Linked DNA regions of Homo sapiens. The protein of the gene in region 5 purifies or fractionates together with the protein of the main gene of each other region. This does not show direct contact. Each region holds a gene or a part of one and is shown on either strand. Other genes may lie near its edges. The genes, in order: SERPINA3, GJA1, PM20D1, FLG2, SH2D3A, GUSB and IMPA2.

Evidence for each region.
Region 1: the proteins of SH2D3A (region 5) and SERPINA3 purify together in Homo sapiens (affinity purification with mass spectrometry; one large-scale study listed by BioGRID and IntAct). This does not show direct contact.
Region 2: the proteins of SH2D3A (region 5) and GJA1 purify together in Homo sapiens (affinity purification with mass spectrometry; one large-scale study listed by BioGRID and IntAct). This does not show direct contact.
Region 3: the proteins of SH2D3A (region 5) and PM20D1 purify together in Homo sapiens (affinity purification with mass spectrometry; one large-scale study listed by BioGRID and IntAct). This does not show direct contact.
Region 4: the proteins of SH2D3A (region 5) and FLG2 purify together in Homo sapiens (affinity purification with mass spectrometry; one large-scale study listed by BioGRID and IntAct). This does not show direct contact.
Region 6: the proteins of SH2D3A (region 5) and GUSB purify together in Homo sapiens (affinity purification with mass spectrometry; one large-scale study listed by BioGRID and IntAct). This does not show direct contact.
Region 7: the proteins of SH2D3A (region 5) and IMPA2 purify together in Homo sapiens (affinity purification with mass spectrometry; one large-scale study listed by BioGRID and IntAct). This does not show direct contact.

What each region holds. Positions count from the first base shown.
Region 1 is NC_000014.9:94,618,891-94,622,390, reverse strand, and holds part of SERPINA3 (alpha-1-antichymotrypsin precursor), read right to left. Parts: intron 3,197-3,500; coding exon 2,923-3,196; intron 51-2,922; coding exon 1-50. UniProt on the Homo sapiens protein: Although its physiological function is unclear, it can inhibit neutrophil cathepsin G and mast cell chymase, both of which can convert angiotensin-1 to the active angiotensin-2.
Region 2 is NC_000006.12:121,445,646-121,447,936, reverse strand, and holds part of GJA1 (gap junction alpha-1 protein), read right to left. Parts: intron 1,106-2,291; 5' UTR 1,090-1,105; coding exon 1-1,089. UniProt on the Homo sapiens protein: Gap junction protein that acts as a regulator of bladder capacity. A gap junction consists of a cluster of closely packed pairs of transmembrane channels, the connexons, through which materials of low MW diffuse from one cell to a neighboring cell.
Region 3 is NC_000001.11:205,829,819-205,833,546, forward strand, and holds part of PM20D1 (N-fatty-acyl-amino acid synthase/hydrolase PM20D1 precursor), read right to left. Parts: intron 2,949-3,728; coding exon 2,780-2,948; intron 562-2,779; coding exon 462-561; intron 1-461. UniProt on the Homo sapiens protein: Secreted enzyme that regulates the endogenous N-fatty acyl amino acid (NAAs) tissue and circulating levels by functioning as a bidirectional NAA synthase/hydrolase.
Region 4 is NC_000001.11:152,353,074-152,357,497, forward strand, and holds part of FLG2 (filaggrin-2), read right to left. Parts: coding exon 1-4,424. UniProt on the Homo sapiens protein: Essential for normal cell-cell adhesion in the cornified cell layers. Important for proper integrity and mechanical strength of the stratum corneum of the epidermis.
Region 5 is NC_000019.10:6,764,065-6,769,201, forward strand, and holds the start of SH2D3A (SH2 domain-containing protein 3A), read right to left. Parts: upstream 3,372-5,137; 5' UTR 3,323-3,371; intron 1-3,322.
Region 6 is NC_000007.14:65,975,221-65,979,233, forward strand, and holds part of GUSB (beta-glucuronidase isoform 1 precursor), read right to left. Parts: intron 983-4,013; coding exon 795-982; intron 1-794. UniProt on the Homo sapiens protein: Plays an important role in the degradation of dermatan and keratan sulfates.
Region 7 is NC_000018.10:11,998,159-12,002,582, reverse strand, and holds part of IMPA2 (inositol monophosphatase 2), read right to left. Parts: intron 3,530-4,424; coding exon 3,396-3,529; intron 1-3,395. UniProt on the Homo sapiens protein: Phosphatase that can use myo-inositol monophosphates, myo-inositol 1,4-diphosphate, scyllo-inositol-1,4-diphosphate, glucose-1-phosphate, beta-glycerophosphate and 2'-AMP as substrates in vitro.

The DNA.
Region 1 (3,500 bases), on a different chromosome or scaffold from region 5:
TATAGTCCCTCGAGATGGAAAACTTTGGCAGGTAGAGCTCACCTATCTCTCTAGAAAACGAGAAAAAAAAAGTATCTGAACCTCTGCTGATCAGTACCTACCTGCCTCCCACCTCGCAGCATGGTCTTCCCTGGTTTCCTCTACAGTCACCCCCTTCTGATTGGAAAATAAATAATCTGTTCCTCAATTTCTTAACCCCTGTCTTTACTCTTCTTATTCATTAATTATTCATTCAGATCTGCAAGTGTGAAAGTCTCCAGGCAGCACACCAAGCCTGGAGTTGTGGCCCTGCTCGAGCCTGGCCCTGCCCTTTCCCTGCAGCTTGCAATGCAGTTGAAGCACCTTCACACCAGCAGGGACCCCTGAGTGTGTTGAGAGCCTGGGCTGGGCCAGCTGCAGTGGCTGCATGGCAGCCTGCTTCACGGGGGCACCAGGAGGGCTTCCTGTAGGAGGTGGTGTTGAGGCTGAGTCCCAAAGGCAGGAAAGGAGCTAGCTAGGTGAAGAGGTGGGCAGGAGGCAGGTGGAAGAACCTGGAAGAAGGTGGGAGCAGGAGGAGTTGCTCCACGGGGCGGTGGGTGATCTCAGTGTTTCAGGGAGGAGGGTAGTGAGGGATGAGGTGGGCCAGGAGCCAGAGGCAGGTCAAAAAGGGCCTGGGGGCCTCTGAAGAGTCTGATTGTGTTAGAAGAGCTTTGGGGATCCTGAAACAATCAATTGGAGGTTCCCATCTTGCCTCACCAGTGGGCACTGTCCCTCAAGCCAGGTGTGGGCTGGCATAGAGCAGGTAGCAAGCTCCTAGAGGCCCAGGTCACACCTGCCACCTGCAAACTCCCCCTCCCTTAGTTTATAGCCCTCTTAAGATGCCTGTCACTGTCTGCCTGGTCTTACAATTATACAGGAGGCTGTGTCTTCCATTAAACTCTGAGTCCCCTGAAGGAGGAAGGTGTCCTATTTCTATTTTTATTCATTCATTCATGTGTTTGTCCGTTCATTCCATCCTTCATTCAACAAGTATCTATTGAGCATTCTCTGTGGGCCAGGAGTGTGTGGACACATGTTTCCTCAGCATTTTGTAAATCAAAAGTGTTTGGAGAATTCTTTCCACTCAAAATTATCTGCTGAGCCCCTGCTCCCTGGTGGCTATTAGGTGCTAAAGGAGGAAGGAGTCTGGGAGTAAACGGATGGGTTGGGTAGGACCCCCACGTTCTGGGGTCTCCTGGGATCTAGAGTGAGGAGGGGCTGAGGGTCAGGCAATCCCGAGAGGTGTCCGGCCTTCTGGACAGTGGTTGGGGCAGGGGTTGCAGCCTCAGGTTAGTGTTGAAGCAGCTCCCTTGCCCTTAGTGGTTTATTATGGCTTCAACATACAATACCTCACCGGATTCTCACAATCACCCAGTGAAAACAGGGGTGGTGGGGAAAGGACATTCCTTTCTCTTCAGGAGGTAGCTGAGCTCCAGAGAAGAGCAGCGACCTGCTCCAGGTCACACCAGCCACCACGGTCTGAACCCAAGGCTGGTGCTCCTTCCTCTCTACCCCACACAGCTGCCCACATGCACTCCCTGGGCCCACTGCAGGGTCTGGGCCCGGAACTACTGCTCCTCCTCACTGTGTCCCCATGAAATCGGTCAGCTCAATTCCGTGTGTCCCAGCAAGTTCCTCTACCCTCAGATTTATCCAGAACTCAATGACTTCTCACATGCATGGCTCCCTCCTGGATCCCAGCCACAGTGGGCTCCCACCTCATGTCTGTGCCTGGTTCCTGCGGGTGTCACTGACTCCATACCTGCTCTACAGTTATTCTCCTCTCAGCAGCCAGGATTAGTCTTTTAAAACAACACTCGGATCGCAGCACTCCTCCAAACCTCCTGATGGCTCTCCATTTCACACACAGGAGGAAGGGCAAGGTTTTCTAGGGGTCTACGTGGCCCTACCTAAGCTGCTCCACCCCTTTGGGGACTCCTGACCTCTCTCAACTCTCTCCTCACTCTCTCTGCTCCTGCACCGTGGTGGAGCTGAAGTACACAGGCAATGCCAGCGCACTCTTCATCCTCCCTGATCAAGACAAGATGGAGGAAGTGGAAGCCCAGCTGCTCTGGCCTGACTCTTCTTTGACCACATCAAGCTCACTTCCACCTCAGAGGCCTTGCACTGACTGTTCCCTCTGCCAGGAATGCTTTTCCCTAATATACCAACATGACTCCACCCCTCCCCTCTGTTATATGGATGCTCAAACATCACCTAATGGCTACTCTATCTAAAATCACAAACTAACACGAGTTCCAGTTTTCCTGATCCTTTCATCCTCCTCTACTCAATTTCTATCCCCTTACTCAATTTCTCACCTTCTAATATATCACGTAACTTATTTGTTATATTTATTTATTGCCTGTCCCCTCTCCAATTACAAATTAAGCTCCAGGAGGGCAGGGAATCTTGTGTTTTATTTGCTGATTTACTCTCAGGGTGCAAATTAGTGTCTGACACATAGTAGGTGCTCAATTAATCATGCAGCAAATGCTGAGAGAATGAATAAATACAGTGGTTCACCAGTGCAGAACTGATTCTCAGAGTCCATCTCACTGCAGCCCTCAACTGATCACAATTCCTTCTGTTTCTCTCTCCCTTCAAGAGATTGAGACCAGGAGAAACCATGCATGAGTGTTTGGGACTGTGCAGAAGATTTCTCATGACTTAGAACATGCTGGAGTCAGAGGAAGCCTCAGCCCCTTGTCCTGTCTGATGTCATTGTCTTAAAGAAGAAAAAGAAAAATCAAGCCCAAAGCCATGTAGGCAGCATAGGGCAAAGTAAGTGTAAATTCCACCTGTCCCTGTATGAGTTCTCCCACCACCATGCCCTTGTCCCTGGACATTGGTGAGACCTTGACGTGGAGAGATGTGGGGTCTTTGGGGGCCAGGAAGAATCACCTGAACTCCAGAGAGTCTCTCCACCGCTTCAGGGTCTCTGGGAGCAGCATGGCTTCCACTTCCTCCATCTTGTCTTGATCAGGGAGGATGAAGAGTGCGCTGGCATTGCCTGTGTACTTCAGCTCCACCACGGTGCAGGACAGCTCCTCGTCCCGGAAGTAAGGTATAGTCAGGTGATGCAAACTCATCATGGGCACCATTACCCACTTTTTCTTGCTCAAGTAGAACCTTGACTGATGAGTATCTTGGGGGTCAAAGGGCATCTCCCATTTGGCTGAAGGTGGAGCAAGCAGTTGGAGAAGGTGTGAGTGCAAGGGTCGCCCTGCTCGACCCTGCTTCCGCAGCAGTGGAAGTGCCCAGAGTCCCTCATAGGAGGGACCCTGCTTTGGTTTAGAGAAGTAGCTTGGCAAGAGTAAAAGTTATTGGGGGTGAGGGAGAGCCCAGCAGGCTTGGATTGGGAAAAGGGCCACAAAAGAAAGACCTAGTTCCTTGTGCTAAATGAGAAATCAATAGGAACCAGGGAATAAGGAGTGCAAGAGAGAAAGAAGGTTTAGGGAAAGTGGGGGAAAGAGGCATGA
Region 2 (2,291 bases), on a different chromosome or scaffold from region 5:
AGGTCGCTGGTCCACAATGGCTAGTGGCTGTAATTCATGTCCAGCAGCTAGTTTTTTAGAATTCTGGTTATCATCGGGGAAATCAAAAGGCTGTGCATGGGAGTTAGAGATGGTGCTTCCCGCCTGCCCCATTCGATTTTGTTCTGCACTGTAATTAGCCCAGTTTTGCTCACTTGCTTGCTTGTTGTAATTGCGGCAAGAAGAATTGTTTCTGTCGCCAGTAACCAGCTTGTACCCAGGAGGAGACATAGGCGAGAGGGGAGCGGTTGGTGAGGAGCAGCCATTGAAATAAGCATATTTTTGAGACCCACAGTCTTTGGCAGGGCTCAGCGCACCACTGGTCGCATGGTAAGGGTCGCTCTTTCCCTTAACCCGATCCTTAACGCCCTTGAAGAAAACATAGAAGAGTTCAATGATATTCAAGGCCAGGGACACCAAGGACACCACCAGCATGAAGATGATGAAGATGGTTTTCTCCGTGGGGCGAGAGAGGAAACAGTCCACCTGATGTGGGCAGGGATCTCTTTTGCAAGTGTAAACAGCACTCAAGCTGAATCCATAGATGTACCACTGGATCAGCAAGAAGGCCACCTCAAAGATAGACTTGAAGAGGATACTGATGATGTAGGTTCGCAGCAACCCCCCTCGCATTTTCACCTTACCATGCTCTTCAATACCGTACTTGAACTTCTTTATCTCAATCTGCTTCAAGTGCATGTCCACATTGACACCATCAGTTTGGGCAACCTTGAGTTCTTCCTCTTTCTTGTTCAGTTTCTCTTCCTTTCGCATCACATAGAACACATGAGCCAGGTACAAGAGTGTGGGTACAGACACAAATATGATCTGCAGGACCCAGAAGCGCACATGAGAGATTGGGAAAGACTTGTCATAGCAGACATTTTCACAACCAGGTTGCTGAGTGTTACAACGAAAGGCAGACTGCTCATCTCCCCAGGCTGACTCAACCGCTGTCCCCAGCAGCAGGATTCGGAAAATGAAAAGTACTGACAGCCACACCTTCCCTCCAGCAGTTGAGTAGGCTTGAACCTTGTCAAGGAGTTTGCCTAAGGCGCTCCAGTCACCCATGTTGCCTGGGCACCACCTGAAAGAAACAAAGAGACAATTCAAGGATCACAGATTGCAAATTACTAGTTTAACATTTAGTACCTTTCAGGTGATAGTCAAAATACTACCAACGGTTTCACGTATTTCTAACATTCTTTCACAAAAAACCAAGTGCAAACTCTTCCTGTCCCATTTTTGCCAACGAAGAAAAGATCTAACAAGTGTTTTGTTTTGTTTGTTGAGACAAAGTAAGTCTTAGAAGCAACAGATGATGAGTTGCAGTCTTTAACCTGGGAAGGTGTATTGCTTGCTCAACCACTGCCTTGCTGTGTGACTTGAGAAGCCACCTGTGCTAAGCCTCTGCTCCTTTTATTTGTCTGATAAATGAGGACAGTTTTTGCCTGGTAGATCTGTGTTTGCTAAGCAAAATCCTGATGTGTGTTATTCAAAGCATAGGTATCAAGAATCCAGGTAAGAATACCTATAAACACACATCCATAACCTTCTTTCCAAAACCTTAATGCTATTATATATCATTTTATTACTAATTTCACTCTGAAAGATTTTTTTTTTAAGATGGTGTTTCCCTCTTGTTGCCCAGGCTGGAGTGCAATGGCACAATCTCAGCTCACCACAACTTCCGCCTCTTAGGTTCCAGCGATTCTCCTGCCTCAGCCTCCTAAGTAGCTGGGATTACAGGCATGTGCCATCACGCCTGGCTAATTTTGTATTTTTAGTAGAGATGAGGTTTCTCCATGTTGCTCAGGCTGGTCTCGAACTCCTGACCTCAGGTGATCCATCTACCTCAGCCTCCCAAAGTGCTGGGATTACAGGTGTGAGCCACCACGCCTGGCCTCTGGAAGATTTTTCAATGGTATATCAAGTGTAATTTGTGCATACCCTATATTATTGTCATTTACACTTTTCTGTTTCTTTTTTTAGAGATAGGATTTCACTATGTTGCCCAGGCCCCTGGGCTCAAGAAATCCTCCTGCCTTAGCCTCCCAAGCAATGGTGACTATTTTTTTCTTAAGCAGTGACTTATGTAGCTCAGAAGTCAGCCTTCTGTCCAGAGAAAAAGTAGGCTGTATGGAAATATACTCTTTTGCTACAATGTGTCATTATATGTAGTAACCTACTTTGAAAAACAAAGACTAAATACACATCACACTTCATGTAAAAAGTTCATTTTGTCTCAATACTACTCACAGCCTTATTAAAAA
Region 3 (3,728 bases), on a different chromosome or scaffold from region 5:
AAATTGGTGCTCACATCTTGGATTTCCATAGTGCTTTCTTCTGAGAAGTCAAAACACGCATCCACCTTTGACCTCATATGTGTCTGCATTTCAGAAAATGCTGAGGAGTCTCCCCATTTTGTAAGTGGAGAAAACGGGGTCCAGAGGATAAGCCCTCTCCCAAAGAGAGGAAGAGCTGGGATTAGCACCCAAGGGTACCGATTCCACCAGGTTCTCCCCAATCACCCAATTATCTCCATCTTTGTAAAAGAGGGGCCAATTTCCATAAATTCTAGGGGGTGACAATGAGACTCTGGCAATAAGGACAGTAGATGGGTTAGGTTCTACAATGTCTCCATTTCATTTTGCCAAATCCTGGCTTTCCCCCTGATTCTGTGGACTGCCAGGAGCATGGGGTAGGAAAAGGACACATCAAGTGTATTTCTTTTCTCCCACCTGCTGCTCAAACCTGTTCCACTCACCGTTTGAAGTCTTCAGGCTGTATGTAGATGGGGTAGAACCTGTAGATGCCAGTGGTGAGGTTTGTAAAGAATCGGCTGTCTGTGTTGCCAATAGAAGTAACTAGAGAGGGAAGATCAACAGGAAAGGGGCTTTACATGAGCAATCAAACCAGCGAAGTGGCTGGGGTGTGGCCTGGCTGGAAAATCAGGACTACTGGATCACTACAGAGCAATGCCTGGGCTCTCCTGAAAGCGTATAGCTATCCTTACAAAAAGCACCATTTCAGCCAGGAACATGGAATCTCCTTCCAAGGGCATTGGTGAGACATCCCTTGGATGGACCATTCAAGGGATGTCTCACCAATGCCCTTGGAAGTGTCCTCTCCCCATGACGACCAGGGAGGCCAATATCTTCATTTCATACCCAAGGCCATGGCCATTTGCTATTCCCCATGACGCCCAGGGTGGCCAGTATCTTCATTTCATACCCAAGGCCATGGCCGTTTGCTGTTCCCCATGACGCCCAGGGTGGCCAGTATCTTCATTTCATACCCAAGGCCATGGCTGTTTGCTGTTCCCCATGACGCCCAGGGTGGCCAGTATCTTCATTTCATACCCAAGGCCATGGCCATTTGCTATTTAAGAAACCAGAATCTAGATAGCACTTCTTTATCACCTGACCTTTATTCTGTATCACTCTAGGTCAGAAATAAATACCCTCTGGGAGAACTTTACTACTATAAAATATCACCGTCTTGAATTGGAACAAAATTTCCTGTTATTCTCATCCTCTGAAGTCTTCCTAGAGTCAAACCTTAGGTCTGGAAAGTGCCAGGATACTCTCTTTCCAGTTTCCCACTCTCCTGAAGGTGGTAGCAGGTCACCTAGCAGAGGCTGGGACTTGTGCCCATAGGTGTGTTCTTTGGGAAAAGACACCCTGGAGGATCAATTCAAGTGTGTGCGGTGATTTGAGATGGTAATTTGTGTTTTGTTCCATCTTCCACTCCTGGTTTCAAATGGACATCCAGGCCCTTCAAGTTCCTTGCTTTGTGGTTGATTGCTGCCTATCTTTTTTCTGCAAAAGCCTGGCCCCATTGGTGGATTACAGTAAGTGCTCCAGAAGAAAGAGAATAGAGTAGGTAGCCTTTGAGGGCCAAGAGAGGAGAATCTGGGATTGTGAGGGCCGGGTTCCTGGATGTTTGGAGGAATCTCTGATTAAACCAAGAGAAAAGAAAACTAGACACAGGCCTTAATATTAGAGCATTAATAATTGAGCAATATCATTATTATTGAGCAACGTCTCTCTCCTTTTTTTTTTTTTTTTTGACAGAGTCTTGCTCTGTCACCCAGGCTGGACTGCAGTGGGGCTGTCTCGGCTTACTGCAACCTCTGCCTCCTGGGTTCAAGCGATTCTCCTGCCTCATCCTCCCGAGTAGCTGGGACTACAGGCGTGAGCTACCACGCCCAGCTAATTTTTGTATTTTTAGTAGAGACGAGGTTTCACCATATTGGTCAGGCTGGTCTTGAACTCCTGACCTCATGATCCACCCGCCTCTGCCTCCCAAAGTGCTGGGATTACAGGTGTGAGCCACCGTGCCCGGCTGAGCAATGTCTTAATATTAGAGCAATAACCATTGACCAGAGATTCTCAAACTATAGTTAGTCATCACCTTGTGTCAGAATCTCCTGGGGGTATTTGTGAAAAAGGCAAATTCCAGGGTCCCTTCCAGATTTGGTTAACCCAAATCTTTGTAGTGGGTCCAGGTAATCTGCATTTTAATAGTTCACTGGGGAGACCTATTCCACTCTTAGATTGGAGAACCACTGTCTGCAAAGCACAGATTTGGATGGGGTGCTAGAAGGCTGCAGAAGGGGAACAGAGGGGTGCTGCTGGGATTGGTCTGGGCTGGGAAACGTAAATTAGGTTAAGGCAAATGGTATGGGCTGGGAGGCTTTTCTGAGCTGAGGATTCTGAGCTCTCCTGCTGAGCTGTTATCCTAGAATGGATCAGAACCAGACTCTGGGAAGATCTTGGCCCCTTCTGTGGCTCCTAGAGAGGAGGGAGTAGTCTAAGCCAATTCTCCCCTCTATGCCAGAGTGGCTGGCCTAGGTTAAGCAAGGACCCAGGCTTGACTGACCTAATTTATTATTTCTGTTCCTTTCCTGTTTGCGTTCTCACTTCCACTCTGAAGGGAAAATACAGTTCTAGTCTCATCAGGAGGGGAAGCAGCCAGCTGTTTACAGGCTGAACATCTAGGGTGGGGGTGGGGAAGTAGACATTGGATAGGAAACAGTTCCAGCCCCCTCCTCCCTCCAGCCACAGCTGATGAAGTCATTACCTGGGGCAGTAATATTGACTTCCGGGAAGACGGACTGTACGGTCTGGCGGAGCAGCTGGTAGCCCAAGGCCTTGTCATCAGAAGGGCTGACGGGGAGGGGGTCAAAGGCACTCAACACATGGAACTGGACTCTGTTATCAGCCACAATGTTCTTCGTGAGTTCTAGGACCTCCAGGGTAGAAACAAAGGGGGTTCGATTTCTTATTGATTTCTATACATGTACAATATGGGCTTAAATATCCTGATTTCTTTCCAGCAAGGCAGAGCCTCAGGGTTTACAGACAGGACTTATTTTTTTTAAGCACTGGGACTTCAATTTCAGCTGACTGGCTATAGGTGATGTAAGAGCTGGGTCTTCCTGGAAAGCAACCTACAGCATGATAGATTTAGGTTAAATGTTTTGGGAGACTTGTCTTACAGTCATGAATCAGATCTTGAATTGGAACAAATTTACATGAGCAATCAAACCAACGAAGTGGCAAGGGGATGGCCTGGCTGGAAAATTGACTACTGGGTCACTACAGAGCAATGCCTGGGCTCTCTTGAAAGCCTATAGCTATTCTTACGAAAAGCACCATTTCAGCCAGGAACATGGAATCTCCTTCCAAGGGCATTGGTGAGATATCCCTTCGATGGAAAGTTGGATGGGAATTGGAAAATCAGGAAGTTATGTATCTTTCCCCTTGGGTGGTGAGCCACAGGCTGGATGAAAGTGTCGAAGACACAGCAGAATGTCAATCATCTCGAGGCTGGGGAATAGATGTGATGACCTGGCTTCAGCCTCGGAGAACCTCAGACAGGTAATAAAAGGGTCACACACTTTTTTCCCCCTCTCTGGGCATTTCTGCTTCCTGTTTGTAACCAGCTGCACTGGAGCCAGGAAGATGAGCTCAACACAGACAAAAAGTCAGAAGTTATGATACTTGTATTCAAGTTTTCTCTCTTTGCT
Region 4 (4,424 bases), on a different chromosome or scaffold from region 5:
CTTCCAGTTGTCCTGGACCCTGTCTGTGTGGTTTGTTCATGACCAGAGTAGGAATGTCTAGTGGTATCTCCTGTCTGTCCATGAGTAATTCTGTGTCTGTCATGAATTATGGATTCTGACTCTCCATGTTGAGATCCACTTTGGCCGTGAGTGTGTCCTGAATGTGTGTGCGAGCCCCCTGAGTGCACTTCACTGTCACTGGACTCACTGTGGCCAGATCCCCTTCTTCCAGTTGTACTGGACCCTCTCTGTGTGGATTTTCCATGATGATAGTGGGCATGTCTAGTGGTATCTCCTGTCTGTCCATGAGTAGTTCCGTGTCTCCCATGAACTGTGGATCCTGACTCTCCATGTTGAGATCCGGCTTGGCCATGAGTTTGTTCTTGTGATTGTGGTCTGTGTGAGCCCCCTGAGTGCACTTCACTGTCACTGGACTCACTATGGCCAGATCCCCTTCTTCCAGTTGTCCTGGACCCTCTCTGTGTGGACTGTCCATGACCAGAGTGGCCATGTCCAGTGGCCTCTCCTGTCTGTCCATAAGTAGTTTCATGTCTCTCATGAACTGTGGATTCTGACTCTCCATGTTGAGATCCAGCTTGGCTGTGAGTTTGTTCTTGTGAGTGTGGTCTATGTGAGACCCCTGAGTGCACTTCACTGTCAGTGGCATCACTGTGGCTAAATCTCTGTCTTCCAGATGTTCTGGAACCTGTCTGTGTAGACTGTCCATGACCAGAATGGCCATGTCTAGTGGTATCTCCTCTCTGTCCATGAGTAGTTCCTTGTCTTCTGCGAACTGTGGATCCTGACTTTGGGTAGTGAGATCCAGCTTGTGTGTGAATGTGTTCTGAATGTCTGTGTGAGACCTTTGAGTGCACTTCACTGTCACTGTTCTCACTTTGGCTAGATCTTCGTCTTCTAGTTACCCTGGACCCTGTCTGTGTGGATTGTCCTTGACCAGACTGGCTATGTCTAGTGGTATTTATTGTCTGACCATGAGTAGTTTCCTGTCTCCCATGAACTGTGGATCCTGACTCTACTTGTTGAGATTCACCCTGGCCCAAGCCAGTTGATTGACCTGAGCCTGAACCATATTGGCCAAATCCAGTGGACTGACCTGAGTCAGATATATGTTGTCCAGAACTAGAGAAATTGTCTGAGCCAGACACATGCTGTCCAAAACTTGTGGTTGGACCTGAGCCAGACTCATGTTGGCCACAGCCAGATGATTGACTGGAGCCAGTACCATGTTGGCCATAGCTAGACTGACCTGATCTGTACTCATGCTGTGCAAAGCCAGAGGATTTACCTGTGCCTGACCCATGTTGTCCAAAGCCAGAAGACTGACCTGAGCCCGATCCATATTGGCCAAAGCCAGAGGACTGACCTGAGCCTGGCCTGTGTTGTCCAAATCCAGATGTCTGTCCTGAATTTGACCCATGTTGACCATAGCCAGATGATTGACTTGAGCCAGAACCATGTTGGCCATAGCTAGACTGACGTGATCTAGACTCATATTGTCCAAAACCAGAGGATTGTCCTGAACCAGTCCCATGTTGTCCAAAGCCAGAGGACTGATCTGAGCCTGATCCATGTTGTCCAAAGCCTGAGTATTGGCCTGAGCTTGACCTGTGTTGTCCAAAGCCAGTTGTCTGTCCTGAACTAGACCCATGTTGACCATAGCCAGATGACTGACTTGAGCCAGAACCATGTTGGCCATAATTAGACTGACTTGATCTAGACTCATGCTGTCCAAAGCCAGAGGATTTTCCTGAGCCTGACTCATGTTGTCCAAAGCCAGAGGACTGACCTGAGCCTGATCCATGTTGGCCAAAGCCAGAGGATTGACCTGAGCCTGACCTGTGTTGTCCAAATCCAAAAGTCTGTCCTGAACTTGACCCATGTTGACCATAGCCAGATGACTGACTTGAGCCAGAACCATGTTGGCCATAGCTAGACTGATGTGATCTAGACTCATGTTGTCCAAAACCAGAGTATTGTCCTGAGCCAGTCCCATGTTGTCCAAAGCCACTGGACTGACCTGAGCCTGATCCATGTTGTCCAAAGCCAGAGTATTGACCTGAGCTTGACCTGTGTTGTCCAAAGCCAGATGTCTGTCCCGAACTTGACCCATGTTGACCATAGCCAGATGATTGACTTGAGCCAGAACCATGTTGGCCATAGCTGGACTGATGTGATCTAGACTCATGCTGTCCAAAGCCAGAGGATTGTCCTGAGCCAGACCCATGTTGTCCAAAGCCAGCGGACTGACCTGAGCCTGATCCATATTGGCCAAAGCCAGTGGATTGACTTGAGCCTGACCCATGTTGTCCAAAGCCAGATGTCTGTCTAGACCCATGTTGGCCATAGCCAGATGACTGACTTGAGCCAGAACTGTGTTGGCCATAGCTAGACTGACCTGATCTAGACTCATGTTGTCCAAAGCCAGAGGATTGTCCTGAGCCAGACCCATGTTGTCCAAAGCCAGAGGACTGACCTGAGCCTGATCCATGTTGGCCAAAGCTGGAAGACTGACCTGAGCTTAACTCGTGTTGTCCAAATCCAGATGTCTGTCCTGAACTTGACCCATGTTGACCATAGCCAGATGATTGACTTGAGCCAAAACCATGTTGGCCATAGCTAGAATGACCTGATCTAGACTCATGTTGTCCAAAACCAGAGGATTGTCCTGAGCCAGAAACATGTTGTCCAAAGCCAGAGGACTGACCTGAGCCTGATCCATATTGGCCAAAGCCAGTGGATTGACTTGAGCCTGACCCATGTTGTCCAAAGCCAGATGTCTGTCTAGACCCATGTTGGCCATAGCCAGATGACTGACTTGAGCCAGAACTGTGTTGGCCATAACTAGACTGACCTGATCTAGACTCATGTTGTCCAAAGCCAGAGGATTGTCCTGAGCCAGACCCATGTTGTCCAAAGCCAGAGGACTGACCTGAGCCCGATCCATATTGGCCAAAGCCAGTGGATTGACCTGAGCCCAACCCATGTTGTCCAAAGCCAGATGTCTCTCTAGACCCATATTGGCCATAGCCAGATGATTGACTTGAGCCAGAACCATGTTGGCCATAGCTAGACTGACGTGATCTAGACTCATGTTGTCCAAAACCAGAGGATTGTCCTGAGACAGACCCATGCTGTCCAAAACCAGAGGATTGTCCTGAGACAGACCCATGCTGTCCAAAGCCAGAGGACTGACCTGAGCCTGACCCACATTGTCCAAAGCCAGAGGACTGACCTGAGCCAGACCCATGTTGTCCAAAGCCAGATGTCTTACCTGAGCTAGACCCATGCTGGTCATAGCCCAAGGATTGACTTGATGTAGACTCATGCTGGCCACAAGTTTGACCTGAGCCACATACATGTTGTTCGAACCCAGAGGACTGACTCAAGCCTGTTCCATGTTGTTCAAAGCTAGTAGACTGACTTGAACCAGACCCATATTGATCACATTTGGAAAATTCATTTGAACTAGAAGAGTTTGAAAAGCGGCCACAGGAACCATATTCATGTTGACCATTACTACAAGACTGGCTACCTCCAGACCCATATTGTCCACAGCAAGAGGACTGACTTGAGCCTGTTCTCCATTGTCCTCCACAGTTCTGTGGTTGACCATTTTCTCTAGCTCCATATCCTCTCTGACTATAGGACTGACTACAGGGGTTAGACTCAGGTTGACCACATCCAGAGGGCTGACCTCCTGAGACACAGCCATGGCCTTGTCCTCCCTTAATTCCTGACTGACAGCCTGACTGAATATAGCTAAATTGATTTCCTTGCCCTCCAAATCTATGTGACTGACAAGAACTTGAAGCATTTTGTGGCCTTCCACACCCACTTGAATTGCTATAACCACATGCATGACTTCGCCTCCCACTGTCTCCTGAACCTGAACAGCTAGACCCAAGCTTTTGTTCTCTAATTCTTGACTGAGTAGAGTTTGATTCATGCCCACTAGTCTCCAATCCACATGACAGACCACCATGACCTTTCCTTTCCCAACTGTTTGATCCAGATCCAGATTCATACTCCTCCCCAGATTCCCTAGAAGGGCTAATGTGTGACTTGTTTATTCTTTCTCTCAGTTCTACAGAGCTGGAACCATGTCTGTCTTTGCCACCACTCCATGAATGACCACAGCTGGACCTGTGGTATCTTTTCTGAGATCCCTCTTGGTTCCCAGAGCTGGATAAATTACCTTGTCTTCCTAGCCTCCTGGAGTTGGACCCATGTCTACATTTCACAGTTCCCCTTGAGTGCCCAGAACTATATCCATGCTCCTCTCCCTCACTCCAACTTGAATGTCTGTAACCTGATTTATGTCCTGGTGTATCCTCTTCATCCTCTTCTGTTTCACTTTCTTCTTCTTGGTGTCGGTGACCACGCCTATGCTTCTTTGACCCTGA
Region 5 (5,137 bases):
ACCACACCCAGCTAATGTTTTTTCTTTTTTTATATTTGTAGTAGAGACAGGGTTTCACTGTGTTCGCCAGGCTGGTCTTGAACTCCTGACCTCAGGTGATCCACCTGCCTCAGCCTCCCAAAGTGCTGGGATTACAGGCATAAGCCACTGCACGCAGACTTTTTTTTTTACATTTAAAGAGAGAGGTCTTATGTGTTGCCCAGGCTGGAGTGCAGTGCTATTCACAGGTGTGATCATAGCACACTTTAGCCTTGAATTCCTGGGCTCAAGGAATCCTCTAGCCTCAGCCTCCCAAGTAGTTGGGATTACAGATGTCACCATCGTGCCTGTTCCAAATATAATGCAATCGAAGAAAAAAAAAATGGCTGAAGATGACAACATGCCACCCCATCTTGCAGAAATGTAATTAATGAATTCACTGAACCCCTATTTATTCAGCACCTTATGGGGTCCCAGGCTCTGTTCTAGGCCCTAGAGACATAGCATTGAACAAAACAGATGGAAATCTCTGTCCTTGGGAGCTGACATTCTACTGGGGAGCAGCACCTCAGAAAAGAACTAGATGATGGCATACATGAGTGAGTGCTAGACAAAAAAACTAAACCATGGATGGGATATAATGAAAGTACAGGTGCTAGGGTGAACACTCTTTTTTTTTTGAGACAGAGTCTTGCTTTATTGCCCAGGCTGGACTGCAGTGGTGCAATCACAGCTCATTGCGGCCTTGACCTCCTGGGCTCAAGTGATTCTCCCACCTCATCCTTCTGAGTAGCTGGGACTATGAGCGTGGGCCACTGTACCTGGCTAATTTTTTTTTTTTTTTTTTTTTTTGAGATCAAGTCTCACTCTGTTGCCCAGGCTGGAGTGCAGTGGCATGATCTCAGTTCATTGCAACTTCCGCCTGCTGGTTTCAAGCAATTCTCGTGCATCGGCCTCCTCAGTAGCTGGGACTACAGGTGTGTGCCACCATGCCTGGCTAATTTTTAAAATATTTTTAATAGAGATGGGGTTTCTCCATGTTGGCCAGGCTGGTCTCGAACTCCTGACCTCAGGTGATCCACCCTCCTCAGCCTCCCAAAGCACTGGGATTACCAGCATGAGCCACTGCGTCTGGCTGTGCCTGGCTAATTTTTAAATATATATGTAGAGATTGGGTCTTGCCACGTTGCCCAGGCTGGGTGAACATTTTTGATCATGTGACCAGGAAAGGTCTCATTGAGTAAAGTCTGGAAGGAATTCTGGGGAGTGTGCCAGGTGACTCTGGGTGAAAAAACATCCCAGTCAGGGGGAATTTAACTTACAAACATCCATGGCTTCTCGGCAACCTATGCGCACACTCAGAGGTTCTCAGGATAGGTGCAGATCTAACCCCTATTCTTTGCTTTAGAATGCAACGCTGGGGGCCAGGCGCGGTGGCTCACTCTTGTAATCCTAGCACTTTGGGAGGCAGAGGTGGGTGGATCATCTGAGGTCAGGAGTTTGAGACCAGCCTGGTCAACACAGTGAAACCCCGTCTCTACTAAAAATACAAAAATTAGCCAGGCATGGTGGCGTGTGCCTGTAGTCCCAGCTACTCAGGAGGCTGAGGAGAGAGAATCGCTTGAATCCAGGAGGCAGACCCTGCAGTGAACCGAGATCACACCACTGCACTCCAGCCTGGGTGACAGAGCAAGACTCCGTCTCAAAAAAAAAAAAAAAAAAAAGAATGTAACCCCAGGGTTAAGATTTTTAAAAGGTCACATTTTGTAGCAATGTCAGCAAACAGCAATGTTGCCTTTGCAGATCCTTCTATTTCGGAGCCCATACATGTGGTTATCATGATGATTGAATTTGGATCTCAGACATTTTGGTAGTTTCCCGATAATCTCACAGGCCTCAGGGCCAGTGTGTCTCAGGTGTCTGGTGGGGGAGATTTCTCTGGATGGTCCAGAAGAAGATAATCTGCTTCTTACTCTCCTGCAAGCTCTCCCTGCAGCCCTGCAAAGTCTTCTGGTGGGGTCTGCAGAGAAATTCCTGCCTCCTGAGTCAGCAGGAAGTTCCCAGACCAGCCCTAGGTGGCTTTAGGGGAGGAGCGCTGGGCAGGGAGCCAGCTGCCAGTGCCGCATACCTGAAGCCAGGTGTGTCTTTGCAATGCCTGCGCACTTCCTGTTTGTCACCTGGACCAGGGCTAGCCTCGGTCGCAGAGTTTCCCAACCCCAAGTTCCTGTCTTGTGTCTCCCTTAGTGAGAGTGAAGTTGAGTCAATGGCAAGGTTCTGGTTAGTTTGAGGACACAGGGTGGCCATAGGTCAGCCAAAGGCCAACTAAGCCATCTCCTGCCTCTGAGTCCTTTGGGATCATTTATTCGGGCACGGAAGAGAAGAAACGGGCAGAATCAGGAATCAGACCAAGCATAGAGAGAGGAGAGAGGGGATTATTCATGTTCCAGTTGGATCATAAACATGTGTCCACGTGTGGGGAGGACGTGGAGGGTGGGAACCACCAGCACAGGCAACACAAACACAGATGTAGGCAGGACTCGCTTTTGACGTTGGACGACCATTGCTGGAGCACTTGCTGTGCACCAGGCTCTGTTCTAGGACCTAGAGATACAGTGACTAAGGAGATTAAAGCTCGGCACCACCCTGCCCTCCAGAGCTTGCAGTCGGCTGCGCAAGACAGACTGCAAACGAGCACAAGATGAATGGAGAAGACAGACCATTTCTAAGAGTTATCAATGAAAGTGATAAGCCAGGGAGATGTGATAGAGGAGGCTGGACAGGACAGCCTCTCCTATAAAGTGACATTGGAACTGAGACCTCAGTACAGAAGGAGGCAGTTAGGCAAAGATTTGGAGGAGTCGCCTGGGTGAGGGGTACAGTAAGGGTAAAGGCCTGGAGCTGAGATGGACTTGCTTTTTACATTTTACATCATCAAGGCGGCTGGTGTAGCCGGAATACGATGAGGAAGGAGTAGATAGGAGGGCAATGAGGTTGGAGAGATCAGGAGGAGAGACTAGGCAAAAACTAGTGGACTTTGAATTTTAATCTCTATGACCCAAGGGTTTTAAGTGAAGGAGGGGCCCGATCTGATTCGCCGTTTAAGAGGATCACTCAGGCAAAAATGGAAACAATGGCTTTCTGTGCTGCACAGGAAATACACTTAGAGAGGCACGCCCAGGTGAGCCCGAGCACACCGACACGCGTAACGCACAGCGACCCTCTCATTCGCGAGGCGACCTCTTCTACCCCAGATCCTCCCTGCGAGCCGGTGACCCCACCTGGAAAGAGAGGACTCCCCATCCCAATAATCCTGGTTCTGGATCTGCCCTGGGGCTCCACTCACCTGGGCAGGACCCGCGGGGCTCCCACGAGGCTGGGTCCAGGCGGAAGCTGAGGCTCCGCGGCTCCGGGCTGCTGTCACCCCCGCCCTCCACCTTGCCACCGCCCCAGCCTTCCCAGACCACACCTAGTGGGAACTCAGCCCAGTTACCTGACCACACCTCCTGCAGACCCCGCCCCCTGCGGGCCCCGCCTCAAACTAACTTCCCAGGCCCTTGCTCCGCCCCCTTAAAACCATTTTTTTTGCTACTAGCCACGCCTCCTTCTGCATCGCACCGCTTTCTCCATAGACCCCGCCCACTAGGGGAGCACCACGCATCCTTTCCTGCCAGTGGCCCCTCCCCTTGTATATAGCCACGACCACCGCCGAATGACTACGCCCACCCGCAGCCACCTCCTTCTCAGCCCCGCCCCTTAGGGCAATAGAAGAAATTTCATCCCAACGTTCCCGCCCCTTAGAACCCTGCCCCTCCCTTCCACCCAGGCGGCCCCAAGCACCCATGGCCCTTTGGGACCAGGGCGGGGTGGAGTGGGGTGCCTCTCTCCCCTCCCCGCCAAGGCTCCGGGTCAGGGCAGGGCAACTCCCTCGGGCTCTTACGCCAGGCTGGGGTAGCTGCGGCAGCTGTGACGTAAGGAGGGGTACGCTTCCTCCAGACCGCCCTCCCGGATTTTCCGGAAAGAAGCCCCATTTAGGTGGCGGGTTTTGTGGAGAGACGTCCGGGAAAACGCGACAGCTTCCTTCAGTGACAGCACGCTGGAGCGGGGCGGGACTTTGGTGGAGGTGGAAGGCAAATCATTCAGGTGGTTTCCCAGGTGGGAAGAAGGGTGGGGGGGACTTCCATCGTGATGCCTGGAGACGAACAAGAGAAAAGGTGACAGGGACCTAGTGCAAGAGAGAGGACTCTTTGGCCACGTTTATTGATGAGTTCCTCATATTAACATCAGTCTTGTCTTGTAGAGACAGGGTCTTGCTATATTGCCCAGGCCGGAGTGCAGTGGTGATCATAGCTCACTGTAGCCTCAACCTCCTGGGCTTAAGCTATCCTCCCGCTTCAGCCTTCCAAGCAGCTGAGACTAAAGGTGCACACCACCACACCCAGCTGATTTTATTTTATTTTTTGTAGATGTGGCGTCTTACTATGCTGCCCAGGCTCTGGAACTCCTGGGCTCATGCGAACTTCCTGCCTTGGCCTCCCAGAGCGCTGAGATTACAAGCAAGCATGAACCACTGTGCTTGGCCCCAGTAACCACAGTCTTAAAAGCAGTAGCAGCAGCTAACATTTATTGAGCACTTACTGTACACAAGGGCTGTTCTGTCAACTTGCCTTTATTTTATTTTATTTTATTTTTTGAGATGGAGTTTCACTCTCGTTGCCCAGACTGGAGTGCAGTGGCAGCAGTCTCAGCTCACTGCAACCTCCACCTCCCCGGTTCAAGCGATTCTCCGGCTGTAGACTCCCGAGTAGCTGGGATTACAGGCTAATTTTTGTATTTTTAGTAGAGATGGGGTCTCGGCCAGACTGGTCTCAAACTCCTGACCTCATGTGATCCACCTGCCTCGGCCTCCCAAAGTGCTGGGGTTACAGGCATGAGGCCTCTATTTTAATTTTCAAACAGACCACCCTGTAAGGGTGGTAGGTAGTATTTTCATCACTTCCATTTTCCAGATGGAGAAACTGAGGCACAGGGCAACTAAACCATTTGCCCAAGTTAACCTGGCTTGTAAGTGGTAGAGGCGAAATTCAAACCCGGAGCTCTGGAGCTTTATCCTGTCTGCCTCCTTTTCAATCTTCGCATGCCCACTTTCTCCACGATGCTG
Region 6 (4,013 bases), on a different chromosome or scaffold from region 5:
GGCTGACCCTGGGAACCTGCCCTTCAAAACATGGCCTTCCCTTTGACAAGACAAGGTGGCTCATGCCTGGAGTTCCCACACTTTGGGAGGCTAAGGCAGGAGGATCACTTGAGTCCAGGAGTTGAAGACCAGCCTGCTGACAGACTGAGACCCCATCTCTATAAAAAAAAAATGTTTTTCTTCTGAGACAGTCTCAGTCTGTCCCCCAGGCTGGAGTGCAGTGGTGTGATCTCAGCTCACTGCAGCCTCTGCCTCCTGAGTTCAAGCAATTCTCCTGCCTCAGCCTCCCGAGTGGCTGGAATTACAGGTGTTCGCCACCATGCCCAGCAAATTTTCATATTTTTAGTAGAGATGGGGTTTCACCATGTTGGCCAGGCTGGTCTTGAACTCTTGGCCTCAAGTGATCCACCCACCTCAGCCTCCCAAAATGCTGAGATTACAGGCATGAGTCACTCTGCCCAGGCTACAAAATTTTTTTTATTTAGCCAGACATGGTGGCATGTGCCTGTAGTCCCAGCTACTCAGGAGGCCAAGGCAGGAGGACTGCTGCAGGCTGAGAGTTCAAGGCTGCAGTGAGCTGTGATCAGGCCATTGCACTCCAGCCTGGGTGACAGAGTGAGACCATCTCAAAAAAAAAAAAAAAAAAGAAAATGGGCCTCCCACCAAGGGTGAGAAACATCAGAAAGCTCAGAGGACCATGCCTGCCCATCCACCTGTCTTGGGCTCCTGCTGAAGCCAGGGTCACCACATGGGGGCAAAAGACCTCCCTTAGGCATGTCCCAAACCACCATTACCTCCAATGAATACAGATAGGCAGGGCGTTCGTGCATCAGGTACGGCCACCAGAGGCTGACACCTGGCACCTTAAGTTGGCCCTGGGTCCCAGTCCCATTCGCCACGACTTTGTTTTCTGCATCCAAAAGACGCACTTCCAACTTGAACAGGTTACTGCCCTTGACAGAGATCTGGTAATTCACCAGCCCTGCAAGAAACAAGAGAGACCAGGGCTGAGGGAGGGACACGACCTGAGTCACACAAACAGGAGCGCCCTGCAGCCACCGCTGCCAGGCAGCCATTTGTTTCTGTTGCTTTTTTTAAATTTAATTTCTTATTTTTTTTTTTTGAGACGGAGTCTCACTCTGTCCCCCAGGCTGGAGTGCAGTGGCATGATCTCGGCTCACTGCAACCTCCACCTCTGGGGTTCAGGTGATTCTCCTGTCTCAGCCTCCCAAGTACCTGGGATTATAGACGTGCACCACCATGCTTGGCGAATTTTTATATTTTTAGTAGAGATGGGTTTTGTCATATTGGCCAGGCTGGTCTTGAACCCCTGACCTCAGGTGATCCACCCGCCTTGGCCTCCCAAAGTGCTGGGATTACAGGTGTGAGCCACCGCACCCGGTGCTTTTTTTAATTTAAAAAAAGATTTTGGCCAGGTGCAGTGGTCACACCTGTAATCCCAACACTTGAGGAGGCTGGGGTGGGAGGATCGCTTGAGACCAGGAGTTCAAGACCAGCCTGGGTAACATAGGGAAACCACTTCTTCCCTAAAAATACAAACAATCAGCCGGTCGTGGTGGTGCGTGCTTGCAGCCCCGGCAGCCCCAGCTACTTGGGAGGCTGAAGTGGGAGGATTGCTTGAGCCAGGAGTTCGGGGCTGCAGTGAGCTATGATCTTGAGGCAGGATAGGTAGTCAAGGAAGTGACCGTGTCCCTCAGACATGCCAACCACGGCACTGAGACACGTGACGTGTGAACAAGCATGTACAGCTACTACGCATGTGCAACCAGAGGACGGCCCAGAACGTGCTTACAGTAACACCTCTTCCCAGCTCCTTAGGAATTCATCACGGAAGACTCCCAGAAAGGGAGTTTCCCCAGTAATAATCGGTGCTGTCTCATCCTTACGAGCAGCCTGTCCTGAATTCTGTGTCTCAGGGTGAACTGTGCATTTTGCACTTCACTATTTTTTTTGAGATGGGGGTGTCACTCTGTCACCTAGGCTGGAGTGCAGTGTTGCAATCTCAGCTGACTGCAACCTCCACCTCCCGGGTTCAAACAATTCTCCCATCTCAACCTCCTGAGTAGCCGGGATTGCAGGCTCACACCACAATGTCCAGCTAATGTTGGCTAAGCTGGTTTGAACTTCTGAGCTCAAGTGATCCACCCATCTCGGCCTCCAAAAGTGCTGGGATTACAGGCATGAGCCAGTGCACCCAGGCTGTTCTAAACTTAACTTCCAAAATACCTTTCCTTGGCAATAAATTGCTCTATGGTGCATTGTCTTTGCTGTGGGATTCTTTTTTAAATTCTTTTTTATTCATTTATTTTATTTTATTTATTTATTTTTTTCTTAGATAGGGTCTCAGTATGTTGCCCAGGCTGGTCTCAAACTTTGCAGCTAAAGCGATCCATCCACCTTGGACTCCCAAAGTGCTGGGATGACAGGCATTAGCCACCACACCCAGCCTAAATTCTTTTAAACTTAGAACCGCGGCCCCACAACGGCTGTCAATAATCTCACCACTGCACTCCAGCCTGGGCCACAGTGCAAGCCTCATCTCAGAAAAAGAAAAAGATATATATATATTTTTTTATTTTTATTTTTTGACATGGAGTCTCGCTCTGTCCCCTAGGCTGGAGTGCAGTGATGCAATCTCAGCTCACTGCAAGCTCTGCCTCCCAGGTTCACGCCATTCTCCTGCCTCAGCCTCCCGAGTCGCTGGGACTACAGGCCCCTGCCACCATGCCCGGCTAATTTTTTGCATTTTTAGTAGAGACGGAGTTTCACCATGTTAGTCAGGATGGTCGCGATCTCCTGACCTCGTGATCCCCCCACCTTGGCCTCCCAAAGTGCTGGGATTACAGGCATGAGCCACCGCGCCCGCCCTGAAAAAGATATATTTTTAAAAAGAAAAAAAACTTAAAACAAAAATTTTTCTTAAATACAGACCGAGCGCTGTGGCTCATTCCTGTAATCCCAGCATTTTGGGAGACTGAGGCGGGTGGATCCCGAAGTCAGGAGTTGAACCAGCCTGGCCAACATGGTGAAACCCCATCTCTACTAAAAATACAAAAATTAGCTGGACGTGGTGGCACACGCCTGTAATCCCAGCTGCTCAGGAGGCTGAGGCAAGAGAATTGTTTGAACCCGGGAGGCGGAGGTTGCAGTGAGCCAAGAACACGCCACAGCACTCCAGCCTGGACAACAGAGCAAGACTCCATCTCAAAAACAAAAAACAAAAACAAAAAAAACAGGGTATCCCAGCTGGGCACAGTGGCTCACGCCTGTAACCCTTGCATTTTGGCAGGCCGAGGAGGGTGGATCACCTGAGGTTAGGAGTTCAAGACCAGTCAGGCCAATAGAGTGAAACCCTGTCTCTACTAAAAAAAAATAGAAAAATTAGCCGGGCGTGGTGGCGGGTGCCTATAATCCCAGTTACTCGGGAGGCTGAGGCAGGAGAATCGCTTGAACCCGGGAGGCAGAGGTTGCAGTGAGCCAAGATCACGCCATCGCACTCCAGCCTGGCGACAGAGCGAGACTCCAGCTCAAAAAAAAAAAAGAAGAAAAAAAGAAAGACAGGGTCTGCGTCTGTTGCCCAGACCAGAGTGCAGTGGTGTGGTCATAGCTCACTGCACCCTTGACATCCCAGGCTCAAGTGATTCTCCTGCCTCAGCAGCTGGGACTACCGGCACACATCACCATCCCTGGCTAATTTTTTAATTTTTTGTGGTGATGGCCTCACTATGTTGCCCAGGCTGCTCTTGAACTACTGGCCTCAAGTGATCCTTATACCAGGGCCTCCTTGCAAAGTGCTGGATGACAGGCATAAGCCACCATGCCCGGCGCCCCCCCCACCGAAGCTGCCTGTTCCTTGAGCACGATGTGTAGCAAGGGGAGATGGAGTGAGAGTAGCACCATAGAGAAGGGACAGGATTGCCACCCCGAGCTGTGTGACGTTAGGCCAGACCCCTCTTCTCCTAGCGAGGTCAACCACACGGGTGATTTTGGGA
Region 7 (4,424 bases), on a different chromosome or scaffold from region 5:
AGGCTGGTCTCAAACTCCTGGGCTCAAGCAATCCTCTGACCTTGGGCTCCTGAAGTGCTAGTATTACAGACATGAGCCACTGCACCCCACCAGAAGGAAGTTTAAACCTTATCATTCTTTGATTCAGTCTACACCTGTCTTCCAGGTCAAGGAGCAAACCTTTGGATTTCATGGATGAGTGAAATAAAATAATAAAACTGGGGAGCCTGTATCAGGTTTTTAAAAAAATGTTATTAAGTCTATTTTTAATATCATTTCATGAAAGACTAAAATCAAGGAAAGAGAAAAGCTCAGAATAAAAGTCTTTCCTAAAGGAGGATGAGAGGCAACTTCAAATTAAATATATTGTTTAAGGGATATATTTAAATACTTAGAAAGCAGAAAAAAATCACAATGTCCTATTTTACAATATGTATACAATTTTCTCTCATCACAAATTTATCAACTTTTCTATGATCTAAAATACAATTAAATCCCCAAAATTTACTTTCTTTTTAATCTTAGTCATTGGCAAAAAAAACTCACTTCACATAAATATGTTGAAAAACAACTGCATTTGATGTCAATTTTTGAGGCACACTGAGCAGAGAAGAGAACAGCTGCTTTCACCGTGTCCACACATTCACCCTCAGAGCTAGGGAAGATGGGGGTGACACACAGACTGGGGCTGTCCGTGGTGCAGCCACAGTCCACTGACTTGTGGGCTAGAGCTTGGGAACCCCAGATTTCAATCACTGATTCCTGGACAGGTGTGTGGGTCTGACCCTACCAGGGGGCCTTTTCAGAGATGGAGGCTGGTGTTCAGCCCGGGCACGCTCCCAGGTAAGCCTGTCTCACCCTACCTATAATCCCCTGCTCTGCATCATGGTTTTCCCAAGGAACTCTGGAGTCTGGCGGTCCCTGGCAACCCTAAGGCCTCAAGGGTGGAGGGAGGTACCTGTGCTCACCCCATAATACATTAACTTTTACCTTGTGTACACAACAGCGAGTATCTAAATTTACCTTTTACAAATGGAACCAACTGCACACATTAACCCAACAGTGGGTTGCGTGCAATCTCAGAGTGCAGTTTGTCCAAGTGACCTGACTGAAACACATCACAGCCCCAATAACTTCACTGTGCCTGATCCTGCATCTCCTCCAAGCCTTTACCAGACCCCACGCAGATGAGCCAGCCCTCCCATGCCACGGCCACACGGATCATCACCGCAGAAACCTCTAGGCCAATATGGTTAATAAAGGACCTGGAAACAGCCGGCTCGTTACTGCAGCATGCTTCCTCTCAAAGAATCCATATGATAAATTCTTTTGCTATTGCCCTTTGATTAAAATTAGGTTTATTTATTTATTTTTCGAGACAGAGTCTTGCTCTGTCACACAGGCTGGAGTGCAGTGGTGTGACCTCGGCTCACTGCAACCTCCGCCTCCCAGGTTCAAGCAATTCTCCTGCCTCAGCCTCCCGAGTAGCTGGAATTACAGGCCCACGCCACCACACCCGGCTAATGTTTGCATTCTTAGTAGGGACGAGGTTTCACCATGTTGTTCAGGCTGGTCTTGAACTCCTCACTCGTGATCCGCCCGCCTCAGCCTCCCAAAGTGCTGGGATTACAGGTGTGAGCCACCCTAAAATTAGGTTTTAAAAGGCTTTTTAAAAATCACAAACACTGGGGCCGGGCGTAGTGGATCACACCTGTAATCCCAGCACTTTGGGAGGCCGAGGCGGGCGGATCATGAGGTCAGGAGATCGAGACCATCCTGACTAACAAGGTGAAACTCCGTCTCTACTAAAAATACAAAAAATTAGCTGGGCGTGGTGGCGGGCACCTGTAGTCCCAGCTACTCAGGAGGCTGAGGCAGGAGAATGGCGTGAACCCGGGAGGTGGAGCTTGCAGTGAGCCAAGATCACGCCACTGCACTCCAGCCTGGACGCCAGAGCAAGACTCCATCTCAAAAAAAAAAAAAAAAAATCACAAACACTTTACACCCTATAACTACTGTAACCAATTCTTGGGATCCTGACCTCAAGCAGAGTAGGGAAATAGGAAGTTAGAGAAGCTTAAACTCAAAGGTTGTCAACAAAACAAACATGAGCGACTGGCAAACAGAAATTCAGAGGGAGAGCTGGTAACCTTGAGATAACCTAACAAGTTAGAAGGAAACGACGGGAAAAAAAAAGAAGGTAAGTGTTTAACACTCGCTTGTTCTTTCATTTATATAATCATTCACAGAAAAAAAAAAAAAAAAAAAAGAGCCAGGTGGAGTGGCTCCTGTAATCCCAGCTACTCAGGAGGCTGAAGCAGGAGGATCACTGGAACCCAGGAGTTCAAGGCTGCAGTGAGCTATGATCATGCCACTGCACTCCAACCTGGGCAACTGAGCAAGACCCTATCTCTTAAAAAATATATAAAAATAAATGTAAAGAAAAGTATTTTAAGCCTACCATGTGCTGAATGGACACTGAGGGAGAGTACCATCTATATTTCTGCCACCTAAGTCCATCTAAACCTGGAACCTGACAGTTATAATACCCTACAGCCAGAAATCCAATAACTGGTATTCCAGTTTTAAGAATCCAACATCTTTAAAAGATTCTATGTAACGAAGAAAAAAGATCCCTTGCATGGTCTTCAGCATTTATACTGCAGAACTCTAGAGGTGAGAGAGGGGCCTTAGAGCCCCCCAGAGTTAAAGAAGATGTCTCAATCTGGGGTTCATGGCTCCCTTAAAATGCTATGCAAAATGCTGTGTAAATATTTTAATTTTTCTGAACAAAAGATTAATAGCTAGCATCAAATACTCAAAGGGTGACCCCAAAAAGGTTAAGAGGTGCTCATACAGGCCTCTTGCAGGGACAGCTCTGGGGCCCGGCTGTGGCAGCCATTCCCACTGCGCCCTCTGGCCTGGGCGAGGGGGCGTGCATCACTAAGCACTAGTGGTGGGCCGGGGGCCCCACGCGGCTGCCAGTGCCACTTGGCATCCCATCCTCCTGGGAAAGTTGCCCAGGCAGCTGAACAGGCATAGGCCACCAGGGGACATCACCACTCCAGGCTTCTTAGGGTGGGTCACACTTCTAGTGGGTCCTTCCAGAAATAACAAATGGTTGAGTACAGGGGTGCAAGGAGCTTTTCCTGAGCATGTGTTGTAAAAAGAGCTGCTTCAATATTCACAAGAGGATGCATTGACGTGATGGTTGTTAAGATGACAGTAAAAAGAATGAAAACAGGGCTGAGTTTGCTTACTAAGTAACTGACAAATCGCAGGTTAGGCTGCGTGGCTTAGGGCTTCACGTCTGGCCACATCAACAAACAGCAGAGCCCCCTGACCCCGGCAGACCCTGCATTCTCTATGAGTGTGGCCAGGGTTACTGGGGGTGTTTCCCAGAGGAGTACACCTACCTGTGTGAAGGAAACCTCTCTCGCAACTCAGAAATAATTAAATCTTCCACAAGGTGATCTGTTTCTGTCACAAGATCTGCAGCTGATGTTTTTGTTGAGACACGTTTTTCCTCAGTAAGGGCTTTTCTGATGATCTGAAATAAAAGTACGGGATTTGGGTTAAACATGCAAACATCCTCCTCCCAGGCAAAGGAATTATCCACTCCTTCGAGTCCCCTCTGTATTCAGCCTGCCATTGGGTGGGGGGGGGGGGGGGGGGCGGCGGGGGCAGCAGGTGTGGCTCTGTGGGTCACTGACTTCTTGCATCATTGACCTCAGAGCTAATATCACAGCCTAGGCTCTCTGGGTTTCTAGTGAGCCTTAATGACTCCACCATTATTCTTTTACAAGAAAAATTATTTCTCCATTACTTGAAATTATTTCAAAATTATTTTGTTGCACCTGTGAAACAACTTCTCTTCGAGTAAAAGAAAAACACAGGGGTTTTGAAAAGAGCATGAAACTTCCTCTGTAAGAACGGCCCAAAACAAGATCATGTTACACACCTGTGCCCTGTATAATCCCATGAATTCAAATTTAGGAGATTTCAGTGTAAAGTAAAAGCTTATTTTCCCTAATTCACTTTATCCCATGAAATGGGATATGCCCTCGAATCTGATTGTAAATGTTCCCACTGAGAAACCCGGGAGAGCTAAACTGTGTTTCAGGAACCATGGCCAGCTCTCACTGCGCTCTGGGCTGGAGCAGCATCAGCTGTCTCAGAGTTCATGCAAGGATCCACAGGGCTGAGCTCCGACACAGGCTCCGCAGCTGTGCAAGCTGCCAACACACTGGTCTAAACCCATCACAGCTATACATAGGAGCAAGGACTGGGATGGTCCCAAGAACCCCAGGAAAACCCAAACAGGAAGGGATAAAGAGTGGCTAATCAGTCCCTGGACAACTCCAGAGGGACCAGTTCTGGTCCAGCCCAGGCCTTTCTTCTCCTTTTTGTTTTGTTTTGTTTTGCTTTGTTTTGTTTTACAGACT